Linked DNA regions of Homo sapiens: regions 2, 3 and 4 are each linked to region 1. Evidence: fine-mapped expression QTL. A gene starts in region 1. Each other region holds a variant in brackets. All regions are shown on one strand. Distances are between the middles of the regions.

Region 1 (8,261 bases):
ATTCACTATATTACCTATACAACTATCACATCTAATAAATATATTAAAAAGCAAAACGATAACCAAAAATCAGTCTTGCTTTTTGTTTAACTGTGAATAAGATTTCTTTGAGCACTGTAACTTTTCTGTTAAATGACAAGTTCCCCCAGTGGGCCCCACTCATCCCTTATTAAGTAAAATAAGCCCAGCAATAAAGCACCGGGATACAAAGAATTCAGCATCATCTACACCCGAGTGGCTATCCACTGGAGCAGCAGCATGTCAGTTAACAACAGAGCAGGGCAGGTCAGCTAGCCCGGGACACGGACAAGAGGTCACACGAGCATCGAGCGAACTATATATGGTGTCTGGGGCCCAAGAAATATCACGGAGGAACTGAGATTTGAACACATGGGCCATGCATGGTCTGATATATAGGAGGTGCTCAATATCTGCTGAAAGGAAGTGAGGTTCAGAGCTAAGTCTAAAATAATAAAAAGTTTGGTCTGGACAAATGAGTCACCAGTGAATTCAGTCACAAAAATGAGACTCTCAAAAAGGAAGCAGATAGGAAGCAGGACTGGCAAGCAGCTTACATGTAATCAGTACCATTTGCAGCATGCAGTCAGAAATGCAAATCTGAGCTCAAGGGAAAGTCTGGGTGACATGTGGACACATCAGCAGAGTGAGCAGTTCCAGGGTTCCCAAGGCTCTGACAGGTACCTAAGGTCATTTTGGAGGGTACGAGGAGGCTAACATTGGAAAGGTTAAAAAGTGAACAACACAGTGAGAAAGTTCCTTCTTTTGGGGCCTGCTGATTATTTTCAAGAGGAAGGCTCAGCTCACCTCACTTTCCAACAGAGAGAGCAGGATTCCAGCTCAGAGTGTCTGTACTAGCTGGCAGTTAACAATTCTGTTTTCATTTTTCTTATTTGTACACACATGAGGATTTCTTTTTAAGAAAAAAGGATGCCAATTCAACCAAAAATATTAAGTAACCATTTTTCTATTTCTGTAAAATAATATCAAAAAGCAATAGTATTGTAGTGTAAAGACAAGGTTAAAAATAAAGAAGTTTGGGGAAAACTTCTAATAATAAAAAAGGAGGAAGAGCGTCCAGTGAATGAGAAAAGGCTGAGTGAATTTGGATACCAATGGGTCACCATTTACCTTGGTAAAAGAAGTTTCAGGCCAGGCTTGGTGGCTCACACCTGTAATCCCAGCACTTTGGGAGGCCAAGGCGGGTGGATCACCTGAGTTCGTGACCAGCCTGACCCAACATGGTGAAACCCCATCTCTACTAAAATACAAAAATTAGCCAGGCGTGGTGGTGCATGCCTGTAATCCCAGCTACTCGGGAGGCTGAGGCACGAGAATCGCTTGAACCCAGGAGGCAGAGGTTGCAGTGAGCTGAGATCACACCGCAGAACTCCAGCCTGGGCAACAAGAGTGAAACTCTGTCTCGAAAAAATAAAAAAGTTTCAGTGGAGCGATAGGGCCAAAAACCAGACTGTAGTGGTTGAAATGTAGTTGGTGTGTAAGGAGTGGATGAGGAAATGGAGGCCACAAGAGAGTGGCCTGTCCTTTAAAGAGCTTGCCTCTGGCAGGGAGACAGCTACAGTGATAAAGTAATAATGGATTTGTTGGGGGTAGGGAGAGAACTAGGGCAAGAAAAACTAGAGCACGTAATGGCTGGAGGGAGACAGAGGAGATAACCCAGAAAGGTGTACCAAAAGAGACAGCAAAAGTGGAAGGTCGCAAGCAGAAATGAACAGGAGGCACAACACATCTTTCTCGGACTCTGGCAGAAGGAGGATTCCTGATAGATCTAAATTTGCAGGTGGAAAGGAGGGAAGCTGAAGTGGATTACAGACAAAATATCCCACAAAGCAGCAAGTTGGGCAGTTCCTGAGTCAGGAGACAAAGTTGGCACTGGGGCTAAAGACTAAGAGTCTGGAATAAATGTCCTGTACAAGAGAAAAGGGAGTTGACAGGGAACAAACACTGATGATTGCTGTGGAGGACCTACCTGAGGATCTCCCCAGCCCTGCAAAGCCATAGACTGCTAACAATCTCCAGGGCTGAACAATCTCCTCCTTCAGTAGTCCTGGGGGAAATGTCACTATTGAGGGTTTTCAGAGCAGAAATGGTAGCGCAAAAGAGTCACGGGGTTGAAGATGCTGAGAAGAGTAGCTGAAGCAACTGACTTCAGGGTCCAAGCTGGGTAGGTTTAAAAAAACAAAAACAAACAAACAAAAAAACAGAAGGGGCCTGGAAATGGGAGAAAGGGTTCAAGAAGTCACTTAGTATCTGGCAATGGCCAGAAAACCAAGTCTTCTGGAAGTGAGAGTTGGAAACCAGAAGGCTCTTATCAGGTTAAAGAATTTCAGAAGTGAAATAAATCATACATTTGCCGGGAGCGGTGGCTCATGCCTGTAATCCCAGCACTTTGGGAGGCCGAGGCGGGAGGATCACGAGGTCAGAAGTTCGAGACCAGCCTGACCAACATAGTGAAACCCCGTCTCTACTAAAAATGCAAAAATTAGCTGGGCATGGAGGCGCGCGCCTGTAATCCCAGCTACTCGAGAGGCTGGGGCAGGAGAATCGCTTGAACCCAGGAGGCGGAGGCCGCAGTGAGCGAGATCGCACCACTGCACTCCAGCCTGGGCGACAGGGCAAGACTCCGTCTCAAAAAAAAAAAAAAAAAGAAAGAAAGAAATCATACATTTAACAAATAGTTACTGAGAGTTAATTACACCAGGCAATGTACTAGGTTAACTAATTCCTGTCCCCAAAGAGCTTAGAGTCTCATGGGAAAAACAGACATTTAAAAACTATATATATATATATACACATACACACACACACACACACACACACACAAATATAATTGTGGTGACTGCTGTTAAGAGGAAAGTACAAGGCTTTCTGACAAAATGAGAGAAACCAAATTGAAATTGTGGAGGTAGATGTGGGGTCAAGGAGGCCTCTCTGATAAAGTGACATCTGATAAGTCAGTCAGGTCGAAAGTAAAGTGAACGTCTTGCAAGGAAACAACGTGTGAAATTTTTTTTTTTTTTGAGACGGAATTTCGCTCCGGTTGCCCAGGCTGGAGTGCAACCTCCGCCAGGCTCCGCCAGGCTCACTGCAACCTCCGCCTTCCGGGTTCAAGCGATTCTCCTGCCTTGGCCTCCCGATTAGCTGGGATTACAGGCATATGCCATCATGCCCGGCTAATTTTTCGTATTTAGTAAAGACAGGGTTTCACCACGTTGGTAAGGCTGGTCTCGAACTCCTGACCTCGGGTGATCCACCCACCTCGGCCTCCCAACAACGTGCGTAACTTTTAAGACTAGAAAGAGCTGATGCACTTGTGAAAATGCAAGAAGGCTGGAACACCGAATTTTTGACTTTATTTTTAACTTTGAGTTAAGAAGAGCAGAGAAGGGCTCCGTTCATGGCCTAAGTCTTGCAGAGTATCTTCTAAGGCTTAATCATCTGGGACACTAGTATCTTCACCGTCCTCCCCCATCACTGGGGCTCCCGCAGCCAGGGGCAAGCTGGGTCTCATTTGGAGGGTTGGTCGGACACAGGCACAGTTCTGAGAGGGGACAGGCAAGGGCCAAATCACACAAGGCCTGGGAAAACACGAGCATGGATTCCACTCCCAGTGCAATGGAATGACTCTGAAAACTGTTAAGTAGGCTGATGATGGCATGACCTACTTTATGCCAGAGACCACCTGGACAACTGTGCGGATAATGGATTGGAGGAGACAAAGCAACAAGAAGATGATGGGAAAAGTTGAGGAGAAAAGCGAGGGCTGCCTGTCACAGGATGACAGCAGTTAAGACGCTGCGTGGAAGTCACGTAACAGCAGCATTTACAGGCGGCCTGCCTCATCCGCCCACACTCTTATCAATTTGACTCTATCAACGCCCAAAACGTCGGACGTACATCTAGCCCGACTCTCTTTAAAATAACAGCTCCAGCATTTTAATCGAGATCAAAAAGGACCCAGCTGACCCTGCGCGCAGGGGGCCTTATACAAAGTCGGAGAAGTAGCTGGGTCGCTGGCCGGCCAGGGACTCAAGCCGCCTCAGGTGAGCGCTCCTTGGCGCTACTTCCGGTCTCAGGTGAGGCCGCCGGAAGCGGGCACTTGGCCCTAAGACCCGCTACAGTGCGTCCTCGCTGACAGGCTCAATCACCACGGCGAGGCCAAGGCGCGGGGCCGCGGCCCGCCCGAGAAGCCTGAGCTGGGCCCCGACACCCCCTGCCCGACATTCGGCCGGGACCCCCGAACACTCACCCAGGGCCGCGCGAGCGCCCACAAGGAAACAGAGACGCTACCGCCGCCAGCCGCCTTGGAACCCAGCTCGACGGGCCGTGGCGCCTGCGCCCTCAGCTCAACCATAGACACCGCCCCCAACAGCGACTCCGACTTCTGCTGGTGCGGGGAGGCCCGTGGCGCATGCGCCTGGCTCAGCGTTTGTTTTTAAGCACGGGCAAGACCACGTGGTTTGGAGGGACGGGCTCAGCAGCGCCTTTCTACTTGCGTGCGAGCAGGGCGAGAAAGCTGTCTCCGCTGCCGGTCAGCTGGGTGGCTTGCGAAGGACGCTTCGCCCCTAGCGAAAAATACCCTGCTGGCAAGGCAGTTATGAAAGTTAAGACATATTTCCACGTAGAGGGGGATGCGGGTGTGCCATGCGAATGTAAATCCTCACAATTAACCTTGAACCCTGCAGAGAAAGTCAGCTTGGGCAGGGAAGTTAGCCGCACTTTTTGGTCGCCAGGCTGTGACCTCTCTTGTTGTCTCCCACGACTGAACACGGGAAGGATGGAGAGCTGTCCTGCTTCTCTGTTCCCCCTCCGCCACGCGCGCACCTGGGCGGAGTGAGTGCCTACAGAGCCTGCTTACATGTGTACATTGCCTTAAGTCCAGCGTTTAGTATCCGTCCTCAGATCTCAGAGGTAGGCGGGGTTTCGAGGCAGGCGAGAATTTTACCGTGGTGCGTTTGAAGAAAGAAGATGTCCACACAGAGGTTCAGAACAATGGGAGGAAGTTGAGCTTCGCCTGGGGAAAGAAGCAGCCCACGATGCAGGATGGCTGTACCAGACAGAGCTTCTCAGCTCAGGATCGGTGCTAGGAGAAGGTGGACTTTCCAGGGCCGCGAGGCAGGACGTCCTCTGGGAGGGCAGTGACTGCGGGTCACTGCCTGGGAAGTGCTGTCCTCACTTGGAAGCCTGAAGTCGGACAATAGGGAAATGGGGTCGGAAAGGGGACTAGGAAATGCTCCATAACATCATCTTATTCCTCCTGTCAGCGGCCCCAACCCACAATGTAACTTGTTTTTGTTGGTGGTAGTGGGTTTTTTTGTTTGTTTTGTTTTTGTTTTTGTTTTTGAGACGGAGTTTTGCTCTTGTCGCCCAGGATGGAGTACAATGGCACGATGTGGGCTCACTGCAACCTCCTCCTCCCAGGTTCAAGCGATTCTCCTGCCTCAGCCTGCCGGGTAGCTGGGATTACAGGCGCCTGCCACCATGCCCAGCTAATTTTTGTGTTTTTAGTAGAGACGGGGTTTCGTCATGTTAGCCAAGCTGTCCGCGAACTCCTGACCTCAGGTGATCCACCCGCCTCGGCCTCCTAGAGTTCTGGGATTACAGGTGTGAGCCACCACGCCCGGCTTGTAACTTGCTTTTTTTTTTTTTTAAAGGAGAAAGAATTCTAGCGATTTCTTGGATAAAATATTAAGAATAGAAAGGCAGTTGATTGACATTAGTTTCAATGCTTGAAAGTAAAAGCAGATATATAGTGGATCCCAACTTTTGAGACTGAGGTTCCCTTTGCAGCTATTTTGGAGACCCTTCCTATATCAGAATTTGGACAGGAAAAAATGGTCCACTCAAAAGGGGAAGTTGAGAGTTATTATTTACAAAGACGTGGGCGGGGTTCAGGAAAACAACTCAGGGTGGCACAACTGGAGCTATTAAGGGCCGAATTGTGTCCCCTCCCCAAAATTCATATGCTGGAGTCCTAACCGCCACTCCCCACCCCCACCCCGGGACCTCAGAATGTGACTGTATTTGAAGATAGGGTCTTTAATGAGGGAATTTAGTTAAATGAGGTCCCAAGTTATTTAGCAAGTCGTCCAAGCCCTTTTATACTCCTGCCCCATCTAATTTTTCTGCATCACTTGTGTCCTTCACTCCCTGGATGCCTATGCTCAGGATTTAGGGAACTACTTACTCTTCTCCCAGGAAGGGTGTGCTACAATTGGCTTCTACGGCCTAGCAAGCATACTGTTCACCTCTTCCCAGCTGCCTTAGCTCAGGCTGCCATAACAAATGCCATAGACTGGGCAGCTTAAACAACAGGCATTTGTTTCTCATAGTTCTGGAGGCTGGGAAGTCCAAGATCAAATGCAGGCAGATTTAGCTCATTTAGGGGAAGCTCTCCTCATGGCTTGCAAATGGTTACCTTCTCACTGTGTCCTTACATGGGGTAGAGAGAGGGCTCTGTCTTCCCTTTCTTCTAAGGCATCAGCCGTATTGGATTAGGGACTCACCCTTATGATCTCATTTAACCAGATTTGCTGCCTAAAGACCCTGTCTCCAAATAGTCACATTGAGGGTTAGGGATTCAGCATATGAATTTGGGGGGCACCCAGTTTAGCCCATAGCACCAACTCTGCCTTTGTTGACTTCACATTAATAGCTTGAAATCAGCCATAGTAGGAGTATTTATACCACAGAAATGGACAAACTATAAACTGGAACTTTGGGGGAGAGGCAATTATTAATCTTTTCCCACATACCCCTACTTGTTATTCTGTCACTTCTGTGATCTTACAAGCAGGTCCCTCTGCTTAGAATTCTCTTACCCATTCCAAACTCAGACAAAGTTTCTCTTTTCTGAAGCTTTCCCCTACCCTCTGACAGCAATAGGCTCTTGCATCTCCTGTGTACCCCCAAACCAATATTTCTAATGTCATTATTATAGTAGTTATTGATTTGGATTTTAATCCATTTTCCCTACCATTTCCTAGCCCTTACTCTAAGCTGGGCATTATTTTAAACACCCCACCCAAGGGGTTCTTCCTGCCCACTGCATAAAGAAAGACCATAGCATTGTGGTAGAAAAAGAGCTTAATAGACACGAGGCCGACCATGCCAGGTGGGAGATGGAGTGCATGCTCAGGTCATCTGATCCAAAGTCCGAAGCTCATAGGCTGGGGGTTTTTCAAACGCAGTTTGGAGGAAGGGGTGGGAGTGGCCAGGTAACAGGTGCTTGCTGCTGATTGGTTGAGGCTGAGATGAAATCATAGGGGGAGTCAAAGCTGTCCTCCTGCAGTCTGAATCACTTCTGGGTGGGGCTGTGGGAGTGGGGTTGGCGGTCCAGGTGGAGCCATGGGTGTCAGACATGCAAAAAACCTGGAAAGATATCTCAAAAAGCTACAAATAGTGGTTGTATTAGTCTGCTCTCGTGCTGCTAATAAAGACATACCCAAGACTGGGTAATTTATAAAGGAAAGAGGTTTAATTGACTCACAGTTAAGCATGGCTGGGGAGGCCTCTGGAAACTTACAATCATGGTGACAGGGGGAGCAAACATGTCCTACTTCACATGGTGGCAGCAAGGAGAAGTGCAGAGTGAAGGAGGGGGAAAGCCCCTTATAAAACCATCAGATCTCGTGAGAACTCACTATCAGAACAGCATGGAGGTAACCACCCTCACGATTCAGTTATCTCCCACCGGCTTCCTCCCACAACATGTAGGGATTATGGAAACTACAATTCAGGATGAGATTTGGGTGGGGACACAGCCAAACCATATCAGTGGTGTTATTTGCAGGAGTAATTGGGAAAGTTGAGTATCTTATAACCTCCAGAATAATGACTGACAATCGTTCATATCTGCGCCTTAGCAGGACTCAGGCTCCTCTCCTCCCCCACAGCCTGATAGCTTCCCATTAGCTTTACAAAAACAGTTGAGTTTCAGGCAAGGTCTGTTATCATGTAAACTATAGCCTAAATGTCTCTCAAAGTTAGCTGGCCCCAGTAGCTTAGAAATAATTAAGGGAAAGGCAAGATAGGTGTTGGAATGGGGGCGTTAACTCAGACCTCTTTCACTGTCATAATTTTCTAACTGATATAATTTTTGCAAAGGTGGTTTCATTGTCTTGAGTGCTTTACTAATGTTAACTTGTTTAACTATGACGATATTCATCCTTGCGCCTTTATTTCACATTTCGTGTTCAATATAAGGAATTCTCCCAATGACC
Region 2 (8,261 bases), 22 kb after region 1:
TGTCAGGTCAACTCAGGGCATGTGAGTGAAGTTATCCTAGACCATGCAGGCCCAGCTGAGCCTTTAGCTGATCTCAGCAGTCAGAAAGCTGACCCAAACCAGAGAAATTCCTAGCTGACCCATAGAATTGTAAGAACTTATGCATATTAATTATATTAAACACTGTTTTCTAATACCTTGTCATACAGCAAGAGCTAACAAATATGGGAGGTGACCTAGAAAGCTGTGACATGCTCATTGCCAAAGACGTGGAGGACAAAAAACTGGCTCCCTCTGAGGGCTTACACTACCAGACAGGACCTGCCATTTGCACAAAAGCACTGGGGCAGCCAACGGGTCACTGCACAATCACCATGGAGCAAGCAGATCCTCAGGACTTTAAAGGCTGCACAGATCACCAGCATCCAGATGAGATGCAGGAATGAGCCAGCAATGGCCGCTTCCTCCACCAGCCAGTGCTCCCTACATGAGACTCTTCTCATGCCTCCCTGAATTCTGTATGGCTAGGGCAGGGAACAGAGGAGAGGGAGGAGAGAGAGGCTTGCGGGGAGAGCAAGCCACATGATCTCCTCTGCCAGCAGCTCACTGCTGAAGACCAGGGCAGAGGATCATCACATCCAAGTAAACTAAGTATTTGCCTGAAAGGGGGTAAAGGTTTTAACTGTGAATCAGAATACTAGCCAAACTTATTGGGCAAGAGATCAAGTTTTCTTTCTGTTCCACTTTCAGGATCAGAAAAATAATCTGAAAAGGCAAAACTGATAGTAGTGGTTATTGTAGGGGCATGGGGGGAGGAAATCACATTTGCACATTACTGGATTAAAATTCCCCAATTCAGTCTGTTACAGTCTCTCATTCCTTTTTCTCTCCCTAATATTTGGAACTAGTGGCACGCCTGGCCTTTGGAGAATGGAGGAATGAATGTCTGAGTCTTTGCTCATGTCCTCTCCAGCTAGTCAGTCTGGTAATATTCTAGGAGTCCTCCATGATTTAACTGAAATTCCAGCCCTTTTCTAAGCTTTTCCAACACCCAAGGCTCAACTCTACCTCAACACTTAACCAAAGTGTTTTGTAATTGGCTGGATCAATGTCCATTTCTCCCACTGATTGGGGATTGAGATCTCTGCTGCCCCCACCCACAATCTCCATCCTCCGGGGACACAGGATACCATGCCAGCCCCAACCCCTCTCCCACAGCTTCAGGGATGTCAGACAAAGAGATAGCCTCTCCATCCATCAGCTTGGTGGCCCCAGATCTCAGAGCCAGAAGCTGTTCCAAGGTTGTAGGAAGTGGTGAAGCTTCAACAACTTGCTTCCTCCAGCCTGCAGGAGCCCCCACCCACAGCCCACCTCATTTCTGTGAGGTTTGTGTTTTGAGACCCACAGATTCTTCAAGGTGCTTTTTAAGATTTCCTACTCTCTGCTGGCAAATTGTTAATCAGTTTGTCGCAGCATAAATAAAATTAGAGAGTTTAATTAAAATGAATGAGTGAGTGGAGACCAGCCTGGCTGCTTTGCTCTTGAGCCTGAAATGAGTAAATAATGAATGTGTCACCAGCAAGTGATGTGCTTTAGCAGAAGTGTGAGGGCAGCAGAAAGGAGGCCGTAGAGAGCTCCTCCACCCATAGCAATTTGCAAGTTGGTGGAATCTCCATTTGGGTGTATCTTGTTAATAAATTCTGCAGGAACTGTTTCTGTTTTCTAGGCCTTCCAACAAAAGTGATGACAGGGCCACACACAGGATGCCCATTCTCTGGGCACCTCTTAATGTCATGGTCTTTGTGAAGGGGAACAGTGGACACACGGATGGGGCAGCACCATAGACATTTAGTGGACGGGATAAGGAATTCTAACATTCTCCATGTGTAAGATGCAGAAAGAGTTGTCTTACATCCCACAGGACTTTCAAATGCTTTCCCAGACATTCATGCAGGAGAGAAATGTTTTTATGATTATTTAGGCCTAGACCTGAACTCCATGTAACATAAAGTCCTTTTTGCACAGTTTTCTATGCAAGGCATTTTTCTAGAAATGCAACTACTGTGTGGAGTGAGGTAAGCTGGGACTGGCAGCACTTTTAAAACCACATCCCTGATGGAAACACCCCTCCTAGTGTTCACGTCTCTGGTATAGCACACTGTGACAGTCTGCATCCGAGACTGATGCAATGTGTTATAGCAGACATGGCCGCACTCGTGTTGACTCTACACACAGGTACAAACATCTTACTATTCACTTTGTCTTCAAGGCCAGGCCTGCCCGAATATTTACATGTTGAAATGAATATTCTTTTTTTTTTTTTTTTTTGAGACAGAGTCTCACTCTGTCACCCAGGCTGGAGTGCAGTGGCGCAATCTCGGCCCACTGCAACCTCCGCCTCCAGGGTTCAAGCAATTCTCCTGCCTCAGCCTCCCAAGTAGCTGGGATTACGGGTGCCTGCCACCCTGCCCAGCTGATTTTTGTATTTTTAGTAGAGATGGGGTTTCACCACGTTGGTCAGGCTGGTCTCGAACCCCTGACCTCGTGATCCACCTGCCTCAGCCTCCCAAAGCACTGGGATTACAGGCGTGAGCCACCACGCCTGGCCAATATTCTTTTATTATAAATTACTTTCCTTTTATTCAGTGAGGGCATTATACTGACTTTGGAAAAACTCTTTGTGTGTGTGTGTGTGTGTGTGTGTGTGTGTGTGTGTGTGTATGTGTGTGTTTAGGAGGTATTAAGAGATATTTGTTACAGAAATGGGTGCACTGGGCAGATGAGTTTGAGAGGATCCCTGCTCATGTCAACACATGGCCGGGAAAACTGCTGAGAGGATTTTGGATAATGTATTCTTCCACTGCTGCTCCTGTTCCCAGTCCCCATCAACCCCTCACTTCTCATTCAAGTCCTAGGAGATATCGAGAAGCCATGTCAGGGCCCCTGGAGCAGCTTGTCAGTCTGGGCACATGGGCCCAGTCTAAATCCTCCACCCAGCTGGCTGCCTGCTCCTATCCCCCATTCTGTGCCCCCGCACCCTCTCAAGGAAGCCCAAGAGTGTTCCTTACCAGGGTTTCCTGACTCTCCCACCTGCTGTTATGTCTGGGCTGGGTGGCCATGAAGGTAGGGGTCCAGGCCTGACCTGAACACAGAGGTAGCATGGTAGGGAGGATTCCTCATGTAAATCAAAGAAAATGACTGAAGTCAGTCTCAATCAATTCAGAAGTTTATTTTACCAAGGTTGAGGATGTGCCTGGGAATTGGAACAAAAATCACAGGAATATCTGTGATCCATGTTTTTTCCAAAGAGGGTTTGGAGGCTTCAGTATTGAAAGAGCAATGAGCAGACAGAGGAAAGAGAAAAAGGGGAGGGTAGATAAAAGAGCCAAATGGTTGCATTCTTGCCAGGCTTTGGTCAGCGTTCACAGAATCCACATTGCACATGTGAAAAGAGGGGGTAGAGGAACAGTCAACTATGCACTGGTCTTGTGCTCAGTGAATCTGCATTTTTTACATAAAATAAAGGAAATATAGAGTAAAAAATGCAGTCATATATGCCTTTGTCTCAGGTGGGCAGAGGGACAAACACAAGTCCTGTCTGTCCTGTACCTGTGAAGATAGGCTGTTGATTAAATTGTCAGAGTGAAATTCAACAGAAGTCGGTTTTAGGGTAAAGATCTTCGGCCCACAGGAATTTCCTTGTAAGCGAATTTTGAGGAGGCCCCTGGGGATGTGTGTGGCTTCTATCTTTGCAGCTATCCATTTAGGAAATGGGAGGCAGTTTTGCGTGACTCAGTTCCCAAGCCTAACTTTTCCCTTTGACATAGTGAGTCTGGGGTCCCGACACTTTTATTTTCTTTTCGCACAAGATGACCTGCAGGATTTCCCAGCCCCCGCCTCTGCCTTTCTTGTAACTGCATTCCAGTGGAACTTTCTCCCTCTGCCTGGTCCAGCTTCCCTCCCTTCCACACTGTACTGTTACCAAAAGCACTTCCCAATGAACTTCCTCTGCCTGAGAGTCTGTTTCCCAGGGAACATGACCTAAAACAAATGAGGCCAGGAGTAGTTCAAGAAAGTAGACTCTAAAATGGGATTTCAAGGTTGTATCGCCCACTGGTTGACACTGAGGATCCCATAACTGGGACAGGTGGAGTCAAGAGTCCCGAGCATGAAGAAGCAGGGCAACTATTAACACACATGCCATAAACTTGAACAGCATGAAATGGGCCATGAACAGCAGTGAAGGGATAATGCAGGCACAATGATTCAGGCACCATAAAGTAATTAT[T/G]AAGCCAAACTGGTTGACCCTTACTGAGTGCCATTGATACATCGAAGAAAGACTTCAGAGTGATTGATTATCAATTAAAGGCATAGTGTGAAAGTCAGAGAGCCTTCTTGGCAACATAAAGAGATTCTCATCTCTTGCAGAAAAAAAGCTGAGATCAGGCCTGGGAGTTGACTCACTCTAAAAGTAGTAGAATTCTAAGGAAGTTGAATTCTCACCCCCAGCAAGTCTGCAGTTCCAAGACCAAAGCCTGAGATGGGAAGGAGTGAGACTGTGAGGGACAGGGACATCTGGGTCGATGCATTTAAGAACTTTGCCCCCTGAACTCTCTGGGTCTTCAGAAGTGGCCCACTCCTCTTTATTAAAGGCTAGAATTCTCCTTTGCTTAAAAATAGGGGGAGGCATCTGCCTTGCTACATAATATAGACCTCCTCAGGATCTCCCCCTACCCTCTCTCCTAATCACCAGACCAAGAACTAGTGTGAAAGCACAACATATATCCTGGCTATGAGTACTGAGTTGACCAAGAAAGAAAAGGAAATTTAAGACCTAGCCACCATATACCAACAGAAGCTGATAGTGTGGACAGGTGAACTGACTTGCAGAAAGGTATGGACATGAGGCAATAGAATATTGAATTCCTAAGAACAAGAGAGGAGGGAAGTCAGTGAAGGCATTGCTCAATCTATACAATCAAAAGAAAGTTAGGATGATGGGCAGAAGGCTGAGGAAAGCCACCTCAATAAAAGTCAAAATTTGTCTTAGTCATAGTGTGGTCTGCCATGATGGAGTACTGTAGACCAGGTAGATTAAACAACAGAAATGTATTTCTCACAGTTCTGAAGGCTTGGAAGTCCAAGATCATGGTGCTAGCAAGGTGGGTTTTATTCTGACTTCTCTTCTCTTGGCTTGCAGGCTGCCACCTCTCACTATGTGTTCACATGAACTCTTTTTGCATGAGTCGGGGAGAAAGTAAGAAGCTCTATGGTATTTCTTATTATAAGGGCACTAATCTCATCATGACAGCTCCACCCTCATGACCCCATCTAATGCTAATTACCTTCCAAAGATCCCGTTTCCGAATACCATCACATTTGGGTTAGGGCTTCAACATATGGCTTTGCGGGTAGAAGACACAAATGTCAAGCTCTAACATAAACTTTTGCCCAGTTTTTGGCCCTGAGACACTTTTGGGACCTGAAACCCATTGACTGAAAGAGAGGCCAGGTCCTCAGAAAGAAGGTCCCCCTGCAATCACACACGATCTCCCAGCTTTAAGGAACTATTATCTCGAGCGTTCTATGTCAGCCCCAGAAGTACAGGCTGTTCCTTGTATCTGCTACCACTGTGTTCTTTAGCATTCTCTTTAGTTTTTACTGCCCGATCTCTCCATTCCTCTGTTATAGTTAATAATTATTTATATTAAACTCCCTGCATTCTAATTATTGTGTGGTTTCTCTCTCCTGAGTGAGCCTTGACTGATACTGAATTGGTACCCCAAATGGTTTTATCTCCCCCCTCTAATTTGCATATATGTTACTAAGGCATCAAAAGAACTTGCTACTTCCTGCTCCTCAGATCTCATCAGCACAATGTTATCAATGCAGTGGGCTACTGTGATGTTTCATCAGATGTCAAGATTATCCAGACCTCTGTGAACTGTAATGTGGCAGACAGCAGCAGAATTGACTAGCTCTGAGGCAAGAGTGTGAAGGAGCATAGCTGAGCCTGACAGGTGAAAAGCAAACTGATTTGCTGGTGGTCCTCATAAATAAGTGTTGAGAAAAGGGTATCAGCTAGGTCGACAGCTGCATACCAAGTACTAGGAACACTTTTTCTAGTAAAGCTATACATTTGGGACAGCAGCTGAAATTGGAGTCACCATTTAAGTTTACAGCAATCCACAGTCATTCTCCAGATTCTTCTGACTTCTACACAGGCCTCACTGATGTATTAGATAGGGATGTGACAACTATCATTACCCCTACTCTTCTTAAGTCTTTTATAGTGACATCAATCTCTGCAATTCTCCCAAGGATATAATATGGCTTCTGGTTTACTAGAAGTTAGTTAGTTCTTAGGCATTCCAATCATAATTATCTTCATCTCATAGATCAGAGAGGCCACATAGTTGCCAAGTGTGTCTATCACCGTTATACATTCAAGAACTGAGGGCTTCATGTAGTGGCTCGTGCCTATAATCCAGGCATTTTGGGAGGCCGAGACTGCCTCAGCCCAGGAGTTTGAGACCAGCCTGGGCAACATGGTGAAACCCCATCTCTACAAAAAATACAAAACTTTAGCTGGGCAGGGTGGCACATGCCTGTAGTCCCAGCCACTCAGGAGGCTGAGGTGGGAGGATCACTTGAGCCCAGGGAGGTCAAGGCTGCAGTGAGCTGTGATCAATCCCACCACTACCCTCCAGTCTGAATAACAGAGCAAGACCCTGTCTCAAAAACAAAACAAAACAAAAAATGAACTGAGGAAATAACTGCAGACTTGGTCTGTAGACCACAGGGCCCACTGTGAGTCAGACCTGGGCTAAGATTCCATCCCCTGACACCATAAACCCCCACTCTGACTGGTGAGCCACTGTGGTATTTTGGCTCCTCAATAATCAGTGTCAACTCAGAGCCAATGTCATAATCTTGGAAAAGTCTGGGAGTTCTCTTCTCCCAAATGCAGTCACTCTAATAAACAGCTACAGGTCGCTTTGGAGAAGACTTAAAGTAAGATTTACAGTGGAAATTTGCAATAGTGATGCAGGGTCCCTCCTCAAGGGGCTTCTTTATTCAAGGGACACGCTAAGTACATAAATTGCCTTAGATCTAGAAATGGGGTGAGAAGCTGTGACTCAAGCCAGACTTTTAGCTACCAGACCTAGAGTTTTTCCTGTTATACAGATCAAACAATGTAGTGAGCTGTCCATCTATTTGATTCCTGGGAATGCCATATCAATTGACCACTGCCAAATATCTCTGTGGGTCAAGGCATTCTGACTGCCTGCATAGCCCTGCTGCCCTTTACAGTGAATGTGCCTCTGGCAGTTAGGTGCTGCCTCTTGGCCTATGATCCTCTGGGATTTCAACCTTATTGAAACCAGAGCCCATCTCAATGCAACATCCCCTACAGTCATATCTGCCCTGCAGAAGAAATCCACTGCAGAGCTGACCAAGGGTGCAGATGCTTTGCTCACTAATGCATTTCTCAATGCCTTAGTCAAGGGAGTGTCTTCTGGGCCTCCTGCTGGAACATAGGTTGGGGGTAGATACACATTTGCAAATGATAAATCCAGCCCAACACTCCTATCTCCATAGCCTTTGGAGTCCATTTATCGAATCATATTGGCCACTATTTTGTCCAAGTTTTAGTCAACCAACCAGGTAAGCCATTAGAATCACCTTCAGCTGCATGAGCAAACACACTAAATCCAGAATGTCCAATAAGAGCACCCATATTCACAATCAGGGCTGATCTAGTGTTAGATTCCACCCTCCTTGGTGTAACGCCCTTAGAATGCACTTCCACACATGCATCCTAGGCTTCTGACAATATACATTAACAAAACCTTATTCTTTCTGTGTGTAAGCTACTTCTTTTTGGGTCACTGTGTCTACCTGTTCTCTGGAGCATGCTGAGATTTGACACTAGTTATGGGTCTATGTGCATATGGTTTGATTGGGTCTTGAGGAGAAAGGGCATCCCCTTTCAAAGCATCTGCCTCAGGTGAGCTTATCACAAGATTCTCAAAGAAAAGGAAGGCTATTATTCTCAGACACCGGAGGGCAGGCTCCTTCCATGGGTAAAGGAATATCAGAGCGACTTGGAGGTCTAAGATTGTCAGTTTCTTCTGGGTTCAACCAGAAGCTCCCATTCAAAGTTTCAGAATCCCATTCTTTACCAATCAATGTTCTAAATTTCCAGTGCAATTCGGCAAAAAATTAAGTTGGTGTTTTATTTTCAGCATTATCAGTCCAGCTACCAAAAATAAGAGATT
Region 3 (8,261 bases), 73 kb before region 1:
CAGCTAAAAATATAATGGTGGGAAAATTCTATTTACAGTAACAGAAAAGACCAAACACTTAGGAATAAACCCAAGCAATGTGTAAAGCCTATATGGAGAAGACATGAAAACACTCCTGGGAAGATAGACTATCAGACTTAAACAAACAGAAAGACATCCCTTGCATTTGAGTAGAATGACTCAATAACCATTTTCCCTGAGTTAATTTATATGTTTAATGTAATCTCAATAAAAATGTCAACCTTTCTTATGAAGCTAGACAAACTGACACTAAAGTTCATACAGAACAATAAACCTTCATGAACAGATCAGAAAACACTGAAAAGGCAAAGTAACACCCTATTGGACAATAAAACACGCTCCAATTACAACAGTTTGGTGCTGAGGAAAGAAGAGACACAACAGGAGATTGACCAGAAAATAGAAATAGATTGAACTGCATTTGGAAATGTACTACATGATAAAGGCATCTCTAATCACTGAGAAAAACTTATTTGAAATAAATGATGCTACAAACGTTGGGGCACAAACGTTGGGGCATTTTATCTTTGAACCAAGATAAAATCCACACCTCATACTCCAAATGGATCAGAAATCTGAATGTAAAAAGCAAAACCATACAAGTAGTACAAGAAAACATGGCGAATTATCATATGATCTATATGTAGAAAAGGCTTAGAACTACAATTCCAATTAATAAAAGACTGACAATTTTTTTAAAAAAAAACCTGTTTCATAGGAAAAAAATCATAATAAAGGACAACCAATGAGGAAATACTTGTAACATATATGAAAAATGAAAAGCTAACATCCCTAATATATAAAGAACTCTTTAAAACCAAGGGGAAAAAGGGACCAAAAACCTGATTTAGAAAATGGACAAAAGACATGAACAGACAAGTTCACAGAAAGAAAAATTTTTTAAATATAAATGGTCCTATAAAAAGTTCAATTTCACTCAAAGAAAATAACTGGAAATTAAAACTTAAGATATCCTTTCTCACCTATCAGATTGGGAAAAATTAAAAGTGTAACACCACACTCTTGACAAGCCTCTGGGCAACAACTGCTCGTGACAATTCAAATTGATCTAAACCTTACAAAAGGGAGTTGGGCATTATTCAAACAAACAAACAAAACAAACTTACATATGTGTTTACCTTTTGATCTAGCAATTCCTCTTGTATAAGCACAGGATTATTTAGTGCAGCACTGTGGCTAAAAGAAGCTATAAAAAATCTAAATCCTCATATGTGGATAAACTGTGGTACAGGTTGAATATCTCTTACCCAAAATTCTTGGGACCAGAAGTGCTTCAGATTTTGCCTTTTTCAGATTTTGGAATAATTGCATATACCTAATGAGACATCTTGGGGATGGGCCCCAAGTCTAAACACAAAATGTATATATTTTTAACATACACCTTACACACATAGCCTGAAGGTAATTTTAATATAATACGTTTATCAATTTTGTGCAGGAAACAAAGTGTTAATTGTGTTTTGACTGTGACCCATCACATGAAGTCAGGTGTGGAATTTTCCACATCTGGCATCATGTCAGTGCACAAAAAGTTTTGGATTTTAGAGCATTTTAGATTTCAGGTTTTGGGTCAACATAGCAGAGCACTCTAGCAATAAAAATTGCTAAAGGAGGAATAGCTCTCTGTTAATTAATACTGCAGTGGCTGTCAGGATATATGAAGTTTTTTTAAAAAAAGGAACAGAAGATAATATAGTATACAACCTTTTGTGTAAGAGAATAAGGGAATATAAAATTATACATGTGCCTGCTTATTTCTACAAAAGAAACATATAGTTCAGCTGTGTCCCCACCCAAATCTCATCTTGAATTGTAACTCCCACAATTCCCACGTGACATGGGAGGAACCCAGTGGGAGGTGATTAATTATGAAGATGCGTCTTTCCTACACTGTTCTCATGAGTGAATGAGTTTCATGAGATCTCATGGTTTTAAAAATGGGAGTTTTCCTGCATAAGCTCTCTTTGCCTGCTGCCGTCCATGTAAGATGTGACTTGCTCCTCCTTGCCTTCTGACATGACTGTGAGGCCTCCACAGCCACACAGAACTGTAAGTTGATTAAACCTCTTTCTTTTGTAAATTGCCCAGTCTTGGGTAATGTCTTTATCAGCAGCATAAAAATGCACTAATAAAGGCAACTGGTACCAGTGGGGAGGTGCGCTCCTGAAAAGATATCCCAAAATGTGGAAGCAACTTTGGAACTGGGTAACAGGTAGAGATGGGAACAGTTTGGAGGGCTCAGAAGACGAGAGGAAAATGTGGGAAGGTTTGCAACTTCCTAGAGACTTCTTGAATAGCTTTGACAAAAATGTTGATAGTGATATGAACAGTAAGGTCCAAACTGAGGTGGTCTCAGACGGAGATGAGGAACTTGTTGGGAATTGGAGCAAAGGTGACTCTTGTTATGTTTTAGCAAAGAGACAGGCGGCATTTTGCCCCTGCCCTAGAGATCTGTGGAACTTTGAACTTGAGAGAGATGATTTAGGGTATCTGGCGGAAGAAATTTCTAAGCAGCAAAGCATTCAACAGGTGACATGGGTGTTGTTAAAGGCATTCAGTTTTATAAGGGAAGCAGTGCATAAAAGTTTGGACAATTTGCAGCCTTACAATGTGATAGGAAAGAAAACCCCATTTTCTCAAGAGAAATTCAAGCTGGCTGCAGAAATTTGCATTACGTAACGAGGAGCCAAATGTTAATCCCCAAGACAATGAGGAAAATGTCTGCAGGGCATATCAGAGACCTTCATGGCAACCCCTCCCATCACAGGCCCAGAGGCCCAGGGGGAAAAAGTGGTTTCACGGGCCTGGCCCATGGTCCCCATGCTGTGTGCAGCCTGGGGACTTGGTGTACTGTGTCCCAGCCACTCCAGCTGTGGCTGAAAGGGGCCAACAAAGAGCTCAGGCTGTGGCTTCAGATGGTGCAAGCCCCAAGCCTTGGGAGCTTCCACACAGTGTTGAGCCTGAGGGTGCACAGAAGTCAATAACTGAGGTTTGGGAACTTCTGCCTAGATTTCAAAAGATGTATGGAAACTCCTAGATGCCCAGGCAGAAGTTTGCTGCAGGGGCAGGGTTCTCATGGAGAATCTCTCCTAGGGCAGTGCAGAAGGAAAATGTTGGGTTGGAGTCCCCACACAGAGTCCCTACTGGGGCACCACCTAGTGGAGCTATGAGAAGAGGGCCACGGTCCTCCAGACCCCAGAACAGTAGATCCACTGACAGCTTGCACCATGCACCTGGAAAGGCTGCAGACACTCAATGCCACCCATGAAAGCAGCCAGGAGGGGGGCTATACCCTGCAAAGCCAAAGGGGCAGAGCTGCCCAAGACCATAGGAACCCACCTCTTGCATCAGCGTGACCTGGATGCGAGACAAGGAGTCAAAGGAGATCATTTTGGAGCTTTAAGATTTGACTGCCCTGCTGGACTTCAGACTTGTGTGGGGCCTATAGCCCCTTTGTTTTGGTCAATTTCTCCCATTTGGAATGGCTGTACTTACCCAATGCCTGTAAC[C/T]CTATTGTATCTAGGAAGTAACTAACTTGCTTTTGATTTTACAGGCTCATAGGCAGAAGAGACTTGCCTGGTCTTGGATGAGACTCTGGACTGTGGACTTTTGAGTTAATGCTGAAATGAGTTGAGACTTTAGGGGACTGTTGGGAAGGCATGATTGGTTTTAAAATGTGAAGATATGAGATATGGGAGGGGCCAGAGGTGGAAAGATATGGTTTGGCTATGTCCCAGCCAAATCTCATCTTGAATTGTAACTCCCACAATTCCCACATGTCATGGGAGGAATCTGGTGGGAGGTGACTGAATTATGGGGTTGGGTCTTTCCTGTGCTGTTCTTGTACTAGTGAATGAGTCTTATATGAGATCTGATGGTTTTAAAAATGGGAATTTCTCTGCACAAGCTCTTTGCCTGCTGCTATCCATGAAAGATGTTACTTGCTCCTCCTTGCATGATTGTAAAGCCTCCCCAGTCATGTGGAATTGTAAGTCAATTAAACCTCTTTCTTTTGTAAATTGCCCAGTCTCTGGTATGTCTTTATCAGCAGTGTGAAAACAGACTAACACAGAAACACATGAAGGAAATGCCAGAAACTCATGAGACTGGTAAGGTAAGGAAGGGGTGGGGACAGGGTGGGGGATGACACTACTCTGGTATTCCTTTTTGCATATTTTGTCTTTTGTTACTATGTTAATGTGTTACTACTCAGAAGATAACATAGAGTCAACAAGGATGGGAGGAAACCCTAAAGTGGAATACAAACAAATAAATTAACCTAACTGTATTTTAAACTGATAGCACACACTGAAAATATGATGAAGGGTGAGAAAAAAGAACTAAGTTATTTTTGACTCAAGTAGTGTTTTGACCAAAAACTTAGACTAAAGACAAAAAGAAATAAAAACAAATATTGAACTTTAGTTAGTATAAATAAAAACAAATATTGAATTCTAGTTAGTATAACTGTTTCTTGCCATAGTTCAGGTCAGAAATTGTAAAAAGCTACCATGTATCCTAGGATTGACAAGTAACTCAGTACGTTGTGAATGAAGGTCTTGAAGAAGGAAGCTACAAACATGGAAAGGGCCCTAGGGTGCTGAAATGAAATTGGAGACAACAGTATTCCCTCATCTTATTTTGCTTTTTGGAGCTTATTAGAGTGTAACTGATATGCAATAACTGCTAAAGTACAGTATTTGGTAAGTTGTGACATTATGTACATACCATGAAACTATCACTACAATCAAGACAATGAACATAGCCGTCACCTGCAAAACTCATGTCCCTTTGTAATCCCACCGTCAAATACCCCATGCCCAGACAACCAATCCAATTTCTGTCATGACTGTGTGTTTTCTAGAATTTTATGCAAACGGCATCAGAGTATGTACTAATCTTACTAGTCCGAAAGTCATCCATGCTGTAGCATGTATCAATACTCTACTTCCTTTTATTGTTGATTAGTATATATATTTTTTGAGACGGAGTCTTGCTCTGTCGCACAGGCAGGAGTACAATGGTGTGATCTCGGCTCACTGCAACCTCCACTTCCCAGGTTCAAGCGATTCTCCCGCTCAGCTTCCCAAGTAGCTGGGATTCCAGACACCCACCATCATGCCTAATTTTTGTATTTTTGTAGAGATGGAGTTTCACCATGTTGTCCAGGTTGGTCTCGAACTCCTGACCTCAGGTGATTCACCCACCTCGGCCTCCCAAAGTGCTGGGATTACAGGCGTGAGCCAAGCCCCACCTGTCGACTAGTATTTGATCATATGGATATGCCATGGTTAGTTTAACTATTTACTTGTTGGTAGACATTTGATTTCTACATTTTTGGCTATTACTAATAAAGCTGCTACGAATATTCATGTACAAGCCTTCGTATGGACATATTTTTCCATTTCTCTTGGGCAAATACACACCCAGGACTGAAAAAGCTATATCACAAGGAAAGCGCATGCAACTGCCAAACTGTTTTCCAAAGTGATTGTGCCATTTTACATTCCCACCAGGCGTGTATGAGACCCAACTGCTTCACATCTTTACCAACACTTAGTATGGTCAGTCTTCTTTCATTTTAGCCATTCTAGAGGGTGTATAGTGGTATCTCGTTATGGTTCTAATTGGCATTTCCCTAATAACTAATAATATTAACAAGTTTCATATATTTATTTGCCATCTACATATCTTTCTTGGTGAAGTCTGTTCAAATTATTTGTCCATTTAAAAAATTGGGTTATACATTTTATTATTTTTTGACATGGGGTCTCGCTCTGCTGCCCAGGCTGGAGTGCAGTGGCATGATCACAGCTCACCACAGCCTCAACCTCCCAGGCTCGAGCAATCCTCCCAGCTCAGCCTCGCAAGTAGCTGGGACCACAGGTGTATGCTACCACACCCGGCTATTTTTTTTTTTATTTTTTGTAGAGATAGGATCTCACTATGTTGCCCAGGCTGGTTTTGAACTCCTAGGCTCAAGCAATCAACCCACCTCAGCCTCTCAAAGCACTGGGATTACAGGCTGAGCCACCACACCCAGCCAGTAATTTTTTATTGGGTTCCAGACATTGTGAATTTCATCTTGTTGGATGTTGGGTATTTGTATATTCCTGTAAACACTCAGGTAGGGCTGAAGCAGTGCTCACTCTAAGGCTGATCATTCCCTACTACAGAGGCAAGACCCCCTACTCTGTATCATACCCAATGCCCCATGAAATATTTTTCCAGTCTTAGCTGGTGGGAACAGGCACTATCCCTGGCCATGGGTGAGCACCAGACATGTTTCCTCTAATTCGAAAAGTTAAAGAGGAAAGGCCTTTTCACTGACCTTAAGTAGTTTTCTTGCACAATGTGCTGGTCAGTATTCAGCTGAGTGCCAGTGGAGACTCTGCAGACCTGTGGGGTTCTCTCCCTGTGCAGAGCTGTCTCCGCTATCGTCTCTTGCATGTGAATGCCAGCCACCCTGGCCTCCCCTGATGCTCAGCTCTGCCTTTTCAACAGAGGGTCTGCCTGGACTCCCATCTGGGTTCTCCCTCTTTCTGTTACAGCACGAAAATTCTCTCAAGGCAGTAGGGCAGGGCAACTGGAGAGCTCAGTTCATTTGTTTCCCATCTCTCAAGAGATCACTGCCCTTTGGTGTCTGAAAACCATTGCTTCATATGTTTTGTCATTGTTTTCATTGTTTCACATGGAAGGGTAAATGTTAATCTGCCTTTGCTGGAAGCCAAATTCATGGTTTTCACAGACATAGAGACAGGTGTATCTGTGCAATTTGTTGTGCATATATATGCACGTATGTATGTGTATATGTATGTACACAACAAACACATACACACACATACATACATCTATTTCCTGATACTATTGGCTACGAAAGCAATGACATAATAGCAGCAATGAACACTCTGAGAACCCGGATCCTAGTTCCTAAATACCATTCTCCAGGGTTCCTTGAAGAAATGGCTGATTCCAGGGCTGGCACAGAATACAAATTGAGCTCAGCATATATTAGTATGCCAAGAAGAAAGGAGGTGCTCAAAGAATGGTGGGGACATACCAGAGGGACAAAGGAGCCAGCTTGAAGGAGCTCCCACCCATGAGGCAAATCTAAGACAATACGAGCATCATAATACCCCTACTAATGGATTACAGTCATGGAAAAAAAAAGAATCCATTAGTCCACACTGATCTAAAAATAAATTAATAAATAAATAAGAGAGAAGGAAAACCTTCCTTACAATAGAATGTTAATCACCATTTGGCAACCATTGTAGTAATAACTGACTGAGGAAAGAATCATCAATAGATATTAAAACTAGTGGATAAAAGTTTGATGAGAAACAGGATATTTACACAGTCTCAAAGCATATTCCTTGAAAGCACAAATTAATTACAAAGGTAAAAATATTAACCTTAGCATTGAGAAACCTGGCAGACTCCACCTTAACCAAGTGATCTTAAAAATCAACTTGTAATAGGTCAAACCAGCATGTGTCTCCTGATAGATGCACTGAGTAAGATACGGTATCACCTCTGTGGCATTCCTACCAAAAAAAAAATGTATGCATAGATGGGTGTGTGTGTGAATGATAAAGCAAAAGCTGAAAAATGTTAATAACTTAGATAAAGGATATAGGAGAGTTCTTCGTATTATTCCAACTGATTTTTTTTTGAGACCCAACTGATTTAAGTTTGAAATTACTTCAAAATATGAAATTAACAAAAAAATTAACCATGCTAAATAAAAGTCTTTCTGAAATGCTACACATAAACCTGCCTTCTTAAACTGAGTACCATAAGCAGCAATCTTTGGTAACTCAAGGCCATCACATTGTGAACACAGTGACTGCTAAGGGATCACTAAGCAGGGCTATCTATATACTCCATGGTCTTGAGCAATTGTTGAGTCTACATCTCCTAACTTTTCTCCCTTGACATAAGCTATCAGCTTTCATACTTCTAGAATGTCTGTCTCTAGCCACACGCTTGTCCCTCTCCCTTATGATGTTACTTTAATCTCCTGTGGTTGGAAAATCAGATTAATGTAGCATATAGCATGTAAAGTAACTGCCTACTAATGTTCAGGTAGTACACATCGATTTAAGAATTGCACACCTCCCATGAGTGGCCATAAGTACTATTGTTTTCCAAAGTTTCAAATTATTCTAGGTCTTCAGAAAAGAGGTGTAAATACGATTTTTAAAATGTCAATATAT
Region 4 (8,261 bases), 85 kb before region 1:
TTCAAGTGATCCTTCTGCCTCAGCCTCCCAAGTAGCTGGGACTACAGGTGCACGCCACCACGCCCAGCTAATTTTTGTATTTTTAGTAGAGACAGGGTTTCACCATATTGACCAGGCTGCTCTCAAACTCCTGACCTTATGATCTGCCCACCTCAGCCTCCCAAAGTGTTAGGATTACAGGCGTGAGCCACCGCGCCTGGCCTCTTTCATCTATTTTAACTTGTTTTCTTTTTTCTTTTTTTTGAGATAGGGTCTTGCTCTGTCACCCAGGCTGGAGTACAGTGGCATGCTCATGGATCACTACAACCTTGACCTCCTGGGCTCAAGTGATCCTCTCACCATAGCCTCCTGAGTAGCTGGGACTACAGATGCACATGACCATGACCAGCTAACTTGTTTTTTCTGTAGAGACATGACTTTGCCATGTTGCCCAGGCTGGTCTGAAACTCCTGGACTCAAGCAATCTGCCCCTTTGCCTCCCAAAGTGCTAAGACTACAGGCATGGGCCGTCATACCCAGCCAACTTTTTAAATATAATGTAAGGTAAGTGTCCAACTTCATTCTTTTGCACGTGACTATCCACTTGTCCCAGCACCATTTGTTGAAAAGACTGTTCTTTCCCCACTGAATGGACTTGGCACCTTTACTGAAAATCAGTTGACTACAGATGTTTGCATTTATTTCTGGAATCACCATTTTTTAAAAAAATACAATGATCTATGTCTACCCTTGTGCCAGTAACACACTTCTTAATTACTATTGTTTTGTAATTCAAAATGAAGAAATGTGGGTTTTTCTACTTTATTCTTTTTCAGGATTTCTTTGGCTATTCTGGGTCCCTTGAAATTTCATATAACTCTTAGCATCAGCTTGTCAATTTCTGCAAAGATGTCAGCAGAGATTCTGACAGGGATTATGCTGAATCTGCAGACAAGTTTGAGGAATATTGTCATCTTAACAGCATTAACTCTTCTGATCCATGAACATGGCATGTTTTTCCATTTATTTAGGTCTTCTTTAATTACTTTCTGCAATGTTTTGTAGTTTTCAGAGTGTAAGTTTTGCACTTTTTGTTAAATATGTTATTAAGCACCTTATTCTTTTTGATGCTATTATGAATATTCTTAATTTCATTTTTGATTATTCATTGCAAGTGTGTAGAAATACGATTTTTTTTTTTTTGAGATGGAGTCTCGCTTTGTCACCCAGGCTGGAGTGCGGTGGCACAATCTTGGCTCACTGCAAGCTCCGCCTCCCAGGTTCATGCCATTCTCCTGCCTCAGCCTCCCAAGTAGCTGGGACTACAGGCACCCGCCACCACGCCTGGCTAATTTTTTGTATTTTTAGTGGAGACAGGGTTTCACCGTGTTAGCCAGGATGGTCTTGATCTCCTGACCTCATGATCCACCTGCCTCGGCCTCCCAAAGTGCTGGGATTACAGGCGTGAGCCACCATGCCCGGCCCAACTGATTTTTAAATACTGATGTTGTATCCTCCCATCTTGCTGAACTCACTTATTAGTTTCAATAGTTTTTTTTTTTTTTTTTGGTGGATTCCCTAGAATCTTCTACATACAAGATCATGTCATTTGTGAACAGTCTTTCTTCTTCCTTTCCAACCTTTATTTTCTTCTTGCATAATTGCAATGGCTTAGACCCTCCAGTACAATGTTAAATAGAAGTGTGATAATGGGCATCCTTGTCTTATTTCTAATCTCAGTGGGAAAGCATTCAGTTTTTCACCATTAAGTATAAAGAAAGCTGTAGATTTTTCATAGATGTTCTTTATCAGGTTAAGGTAGTTTCCTTCCGTTCCTCGTTTTTCAAACATTTTTATGATGAAAGGGTGTTGGATTTATTCAAATGCAGCTATTTTTGCATCAGTAGAGATGACTTTTTTATTATATTGATATAATGTATTACATTGATTTTCACATGTTAAGCCAATCTTATATCCCTGGGATAAATCCTACTTGGTGATGGTGCATAATTATTTTTATATGTTGCTGGATTTGGTTTGCAGCATTTAGTTGAGGATTTTTGCAGGTATTTCATAAGACATATTGGTCTGCAGTTTTCTTGTAATATCTTTGAGCAGTTTTGTTATCAGGGCAATACTGGGAAGTACTCCCTCCTATTTCTTGAAAGAGTTTGAGAATAATTGCTATAATTTATTTGATTGTTTGGTAGAACACAGTGGTAAAACTGTCTGTGCCTGGACTATTCTTTGTGGGCAATTTTCTGATTCCTGGTTTAATCTGTTCACTAGTTATAGGTCTATTCAGATTGCCCATTTCTGTAAGGTTGGTAGTAGTGTCTACTCTTTCATATCAGATCCTAGTAATTTGAGTATTGCCTTTTTATTGGTCAACCTAGTGAAATATTTGTCATATTTATTGATCTTTTCAAATTACCAGTTTCTAGTAATATTTTCTCTATTGTTTTTCTATTCTTTCATTAATTTCTACTCTAATTTTATTATTTCCTTCCTTCTGCTTGCTTTAGGTTTAGTTTGTTCTTCTTTCTTCAGTGACTTAAGGTGGAAGAAAGGTTATTGCTTTATTTCTTCCTTAATACAGGCATTTACACCTATAAATTTCCTCTAAGCACTTTTTTAGCTGCATCCGTACAGTTTACTTGTGTCTTAATTTTCATTAGCCTCAAAGTGCTGATTACCTTCTTGTTTTCTTCTTTGGTCTATTGGTCATTTAGTAGTGTGTTGTTCAATTTCCTAATTGTGAGTTCTTCAAATGTTCCCATTTTTTATTTCTAATTTAATCCTGTGATTATGTTCACAAAATGCACTTTGCATTATTTCTATCCTTTTAAACGTATTGAAGTTTCATGGTCTAGCATAAGGCCTATCCTGAAGAATGTTCTATGAGCATTTGATAATGTATATGCTGTAGCGCTTGGGTGAAGTGTTCTATAGATGTCTGTTAGGGCTAGTTGGTTTACAGCGTTGGTCAAGTTTTCTATTTCATTGTTAACCTTGTGTCTAGTTTTGTCCATTACTGAAAATAGGTTATGGAGTCTCCAATTATTATTGTGACCATTTTCTTCTTCCATTTCTGTCAGTTTTTGCTTTCTGTGTTTTGATACTGTTAAGTTCATACATATGTTTACAACTGTTATATCTTTTTGATGGGTTAACCTTTTTATCATTATAAAATGTCTCTATCTCTAGGAGCATTTTTGTCTTAAAGTCTACTTTGTCTGACACTAGTATAGCCAGTCCAGCTTTCTTATGGCAATTGTTTGCACTATTTCTTTTTGTATCCTTTTAATCTATCTGTGTCTTTGAGCCTAAAGTGTGTTATCTATGGGAGCATAGATAACATAGAGTTGGAATGTATTTTTAATCCAATCTGATAGTCTCTGCCTGATTAAATTCATTAACATTTATTATTGATAAGTTGAATACACATTACTTTTTGTTTTCTAGTATCCATTGTGTTCTTTTCATTCTCTTTTAATATTGCCTTTTGCATCGAGTATTTTCTAAGGTAGTATTTTAATTTGATTAATGATTTTTCAACTATATTTCTGGAGTTATTTTATTAGTGGTTGCTCTAGTGTTTACCATATACATCTTATCAGAATCTGTTAGAATTACACAAGCTTAACTCCAATAATATATAGAAGCTTTACTCTTATATAGCTATATTCCCTTTCCCCCTTTTTGTGATATTTTAGGTATACATATGGTATCTATTAATGTTACAAATCCAACACATTGTTATAATTATTACTTTACCATCTGCCATCATTTAATTAGTCTACTACAGCTTTGCTCCCAGCCACCTCCTTTGTGCTGTTTTGACAAATGTTACATATATGACATTTCTGTATGTTATAGACCAATACATCATATACGTATTATTTGATACAGTTGCATTTTAATCAGTTAAGAGGAGAAAAATATGCATTTATGTGACTTTTATAATTATATAATTGCTTTTACTGGTGCTCTTCTCTTGCTTTCAGCCTAAAGAACTTCATTTAATACTTCTTATTAGGCAGGTTGGTTAACAACAATTTTTCTGTTTTTGTTTATCTGGGAAAGTATTTCACTTATATTTTTGAATAATACATTTGCTGGATATAGGATTCTTGGTTGACAGTTTTTTTTTCTTCAAGCACTTTGACTGTTATACCTGCCTTCTGGCCTCCATTATTTCTTTTGAGAAGTCAAGTATTAATTTTGTTCTCTAAGTGATGTATCTTTTTTTCACTCACTACTTTCAAGGTTTTCTCATCTTTGATTTCAGCATTTTTGACTATGATGTGTCTGTGAATCCCTCTGCATTTATCATGCTGGAAGTTCACTAAGCTTCCTAGATGTTTTTCAATCAATTTGGAGAGTTTTCAGTCATTGTATCTTTAAATATTTCCTTTTTCTTCTGCTCTTCTTGTACTCCCATTACATGCATACTTAATGGTGCACATAATGGTGCTTCACATTTCTCTGAGGTTTTGCTCATTTTTC[A/AT]TTTTTTTTCTCTCTGTTCTTTGGAAAGCATATCTCTCTTATTCTATCTGCCAGTTGGCTGACAATTTCTTCTGCCAGTTCAAATCTACTATTGAACCCCTTTAGTGCATTTTTTCCTTATTATAGTTTTTAACTTCATGAATTTAGCTCTTGCCACTTGAAGCTGGAGGGGATAAGAAATGCTGGCATCTTGCCCCTCCCTGTGAGGTACCATACCTCTGGACAGGGAGCTGAGGGAGACGGAGCTCTGTTTTCTTGGCTGCACCCACTGAAATGGGAGGGAGGGAGTGAGTGTGTTGTGGCTGAAATGTCTGACTCACTGTTCTTACCAAGATTTGGATTTTCTTGAATAAGCGTTACTTTATTCTACATGCTTTTAGGACAATTTCCAGTGGCATTAAGTGTTTGTGTCTCTCTGTATGAGAGGAAGGTGTTTATTTTTTGTTACAATTTTCACTAGTTATAGCTAATTCCTAGGACAGTGGGTCCACAGGGCCCTTCACATTGCCATTCTGGAAGTGAAAATCTAAAAGATATTTCAATGTTAGAAAATTTAACTGTGTACTTTACTACACCAAGAAAAGCTATACAATTATATCAATATATACCAGAAAAGACTTTGAGGACAATCATTCTACCATTTGTGATAATCAATTATGATACCACAATGATAAAAACAGTGGGTTACTAAGCAAAGTTAGATAAATGGACCAATTTAACAGAATGCAGAGCCAAGAAACATTTCCGTACATTATATGTAAATTGGTAAAGGTGGCCTTATACATCAGGAGGAAAATAATAAACTATTTTTTAAAGGTGCTAGGGAAACTAGCTATCCATATGGGATTAATAATTCATAAGAATGTATTCATGACCCTAGCTAGGGAATGGTTCTTAAATAAACAAAAAAAAATGGAAAGACTGAATTTACTATATTTTAAAACTTCCGTATGATAAACATCACAAAATAGATATGTGAATATGCTAATTCTCCATATTTTTATGTAAGTTAAAAGACTCACAACCAAAACTAAAAATCTATAAAACACCTAGGAATAAGCCTATTATGAAATGTGCAAGACATTTATGAAGAAAGTTATTAAAATTTCATCCAAGAATATAAAAGACTTTAATAAAATGAGGCCTATCATAACACTAATCAGAAACATTATATTAATTATAAAGAGGTCTATTATTCTCAAATTAATGTGTAAACAAATGCAATCCTAGTCAAAAGAACACCACAATTTTACTGGAATTTAATAAACTAATTCTTGATTCAGCTGGAACAGAAAACACCCAAGTATAAGACACTGAAGAGGGGGAGAAAGGAAAAGGAACTTGCCCATGAATGGCAAAACACAATGCAAAGCACCAAATGACAGCGTGAGGAGTGTGGTTGGTAGAACCAACACCTGGATCCACAGGACAGAAATAGACAACTTAGCATGTGATGAGTTGAAAGCTGACATTTTAAACTGGTGGAGAAAAGAATATTTGTTGATCATTGGAATAACTGCCTTTTTGTTTTTGTTTAGGGGAGCAATCCTAAAAGATAAACAACCCACAGGAAAACTAGGCCAACATAACACTAATAGGCAATGTACGGTAGAGATCTACAAATGGCCAATAAACATGGAAATGTTTGATTTTGTACGTAATCAGGGAAATTCAAGTGAAAACAAGGTACTTTCAATCACGAGACTGGTTAAAACAAAACAAAACAACCTATCGATATTGATACCACTTACTGTTGGCAAGGGTTTGGAGAAATGGGTCCTTTTATGGAGGGTGAATTGATGCAAGCAATTCTGCTACATCCACTGACATTTAAAATCTACATCATTAATCCAACAATTCTGTGCAGGCAGAGCTATACTTACAGGAATAGAAATGTCTTGCATATAATATTAAATGAAAAGTTAGTTGCAAAATAAGGATGGTATAAGGCCATTAATATAAATTACATATTTAAAGCAAACTAATTGCTATAATAGACTTCAAAAGACAGTAGCTTAAGCAAGTCAGTATTTTATTTTACTCTTAAATAACAGGTCAAAGGAGAGCAGTTCAAGACTGGCAGGCCAACTTCTCCTTCCTCAACACATCACTTCCATCTCTTGAGATGCCAGGTCACTACTGAAGCTCCCATTGGCCTCCCAGCCAGCAAGAAAGGGGAATGTCAAGGAGAGTGCATACCCTGCTTCTTTAAAGGGCCAATTGGGAAGTTTAAAACTTAGTCATATGGCCACAATTAACTATAAGAGAGGCTGAGAAGTAGTCTTAAGCTGAGCAGCCAGACGTCCAGGTAAAACTCAAAAATTTTATTAGTAAAGGAAGAATGGGAAAATGACATTATAGCAGCAGTCTGTGTCATGTGATTCTCTAAATGCATGGAGAATACACACCAAACCTAGGGCTGTACTTAGCTGTGGAACAGGTGCAAGATGGTGTGGGGGTGGGGAGGCAGACTATTGCTTGAACATTTTTAATGGTGATAGTATTAACATTTAATTTTTTGACAAAATTTTAAAATCCTTTATTTGTGCTGATAAAGCATGTTAAATACATTAAATCTATTTACACTGTACAAAGCTTTTAAAGTTCTAAAAATCAGATTTTTATCTAAATGAATAAATTTCTCTGTATTGTTAAAACCATTCTACTTAACTGCATTGTTCTCCAAGTCCCTCCAGCCAGGAGGCACGGTAACAATGTGTCAGATCTCCACACTGAGACACCACCTTCCCAAGATCATGGTACATCAGCAGCAGAACTGAGACAAAAACTGGAACAAGGACCACCTTGCTCCTACTGCATTATAGCTTTTGATAGTATTTGCTACTTGAAGAGGAGGCTATACCTTGTCTAGCTCAATACAGTTTATGTTTCAGACACTATAAGTATGATACCCAAATGCTTCATGAGTGAACAAGGTCAGCAGATCACCCTGAGAACAAGGAAGACACAATTTCCTTATAGGCTAATGATTATAAAAATAGAAATTAAGAGCTCCCCAGAAACAAACCACTTAGTCAAAAAGGAAGGAGTTTTGACTTTCTTCTAAGCCAAGTACTCAAGTTTAAGACTTATTGGCCTATTTAAAAATTCTTTCTATGACTTCTAAACAATGATGGCAAAGTGACAAAAATAATGTAATCATCTTCTTCCCTCATTATATATAAACCAAACTAAAAACAAAAGAAATGAACAAGCTATAATCCAAAAAAAACTAGAAAATCCTGACAGGAATCATATAGAACATCTCTAAGAAAAGGATTCTTGGCTTAAGCAAAATATTAGAGCAGAGAAAGCAAAACTCATGTCCTCTCATGCAGTCCGGCAAGGCCCCCCTGCCCAGAACCCTCCTCTCTGAGTCACATGGATGAGCAGACAGAAGATCTGGACACAGCTATCCATGTTAAGCATGAGAGAGATGTAAAGAAATAGCAGGGTAGGAGGGCAGGCATACTACAGAAAAATGAGAGAGAGGAAAAGAGCATGCCAGAGAATACAAATCCAAGAAACAAACTGCACTAAGACAGCTAAGAAGAAATTTCAGGAATACGATGAATTTCGGAAAACAACACTTCAAAGATGAGATGATAAAATCATCCTGAGAAGGAAACAAGAAAAACATGGGTAAGAAAATAAACTGAGGATCAAAGCAACACCATCACAGAACCACAAACACATAAACAGTAGTGAGATACAAACAGCCTTGGCTGGAATCCAAACCGCAGAAACAAGAAAGCCCGTCGCAAGGAATGCAA

Direction of the effects. Alleles are on the strand shown, and positions count from the first base shown. SD is a standard deviation of normalised expression in the study named. Not every link is listed here.
In carriers of allele C in region 3, the expression in spleen of the gene that starts at base 4,448 in region 1 tends to be lower than with T alone (small effect, 0.40 SD a copy in GTEx).
In carriers of allele AT in region 4, the expression in sigmoid colon of the gene that starts at base 4,448 in region 1 tends to be higher than with A alone (small effect, 0.22 SD a copy in GTEx).

The links. PIP is the estimated chance that this variant, and not a neighbour inherited with it, causes the effect.
Region 2: its variant is the best candidate, but not a certain one, in a credible set for the expression of ERCC6 in T cells (TOPMed, PIP 0.76).
Region 3: its variant is the best candidate, but not a certain one, in a credible set for the expression of ERCC6 in spleen (GTEx, PIP 0.66).
Region 4: its variant is the best candidate, but not a certain one, in a credible set for the expression of ERCC6 in sigmoid colon (GTEx, PIP 0.53).

Annotation. Positions count from the first base shown.
Region 1 is chr10:49,534,674-49,542,934 of GRCh38, forward strand. It overlaps ERCC6 (ERCC excision repair 6, chromatin remodeling factor), which reads right to left and starts at 4,448. Exons shown (of 21, transcript NM_000124.4): 1 at 4,289-4,448. RefSeq lists enhancers at 101-260, 1,419-1,468, 1,499-1,558, 4,801-4,860, 4,891-5,130 and silencers at 2,957-3,145, 4,091-4,380.
Region 2 is chr10:49,556,283-49,564,543 of GRCh38, forward strand. No RefSeq gene overlaps it. Among named protein-coding and RNA genes, the nearest start is that of ERCC6, 21 kb to the left of the region's middle. The variant T/G (reference allele first, on the strand shown) is at 4,268.
Region 3 is chr10:49,461,781-49,470,041 of GRCh38, forward strand. All of the region lies in intron 18 of ERCC6 (ERCC excision repair 6, chromatin remodeling factor), which reads right to left. Among named protein-coding and RNA genes, the nearest start is that of PGBD3, 58 kb to the right of the region's middle. The variant C/T (reference allele first, on the strand shown) is at 3,552.
Region 4 is chr10:49,449,648-49,457,908 of GRCh38, forward strand. It overlaps ERCC6 (ERCC excision repair 6, chromatin remodeling factor), which reads right to left. Exons shown (of 21, transcript NM_000124.4): 21 at 4,823-8,261. Among named protein-coding and RNA genes, the nearest start is that of DRGX, 58 kb to the left of the region's middle. The variant A/AT (reference allele first, on the strand shown) is at 4,489.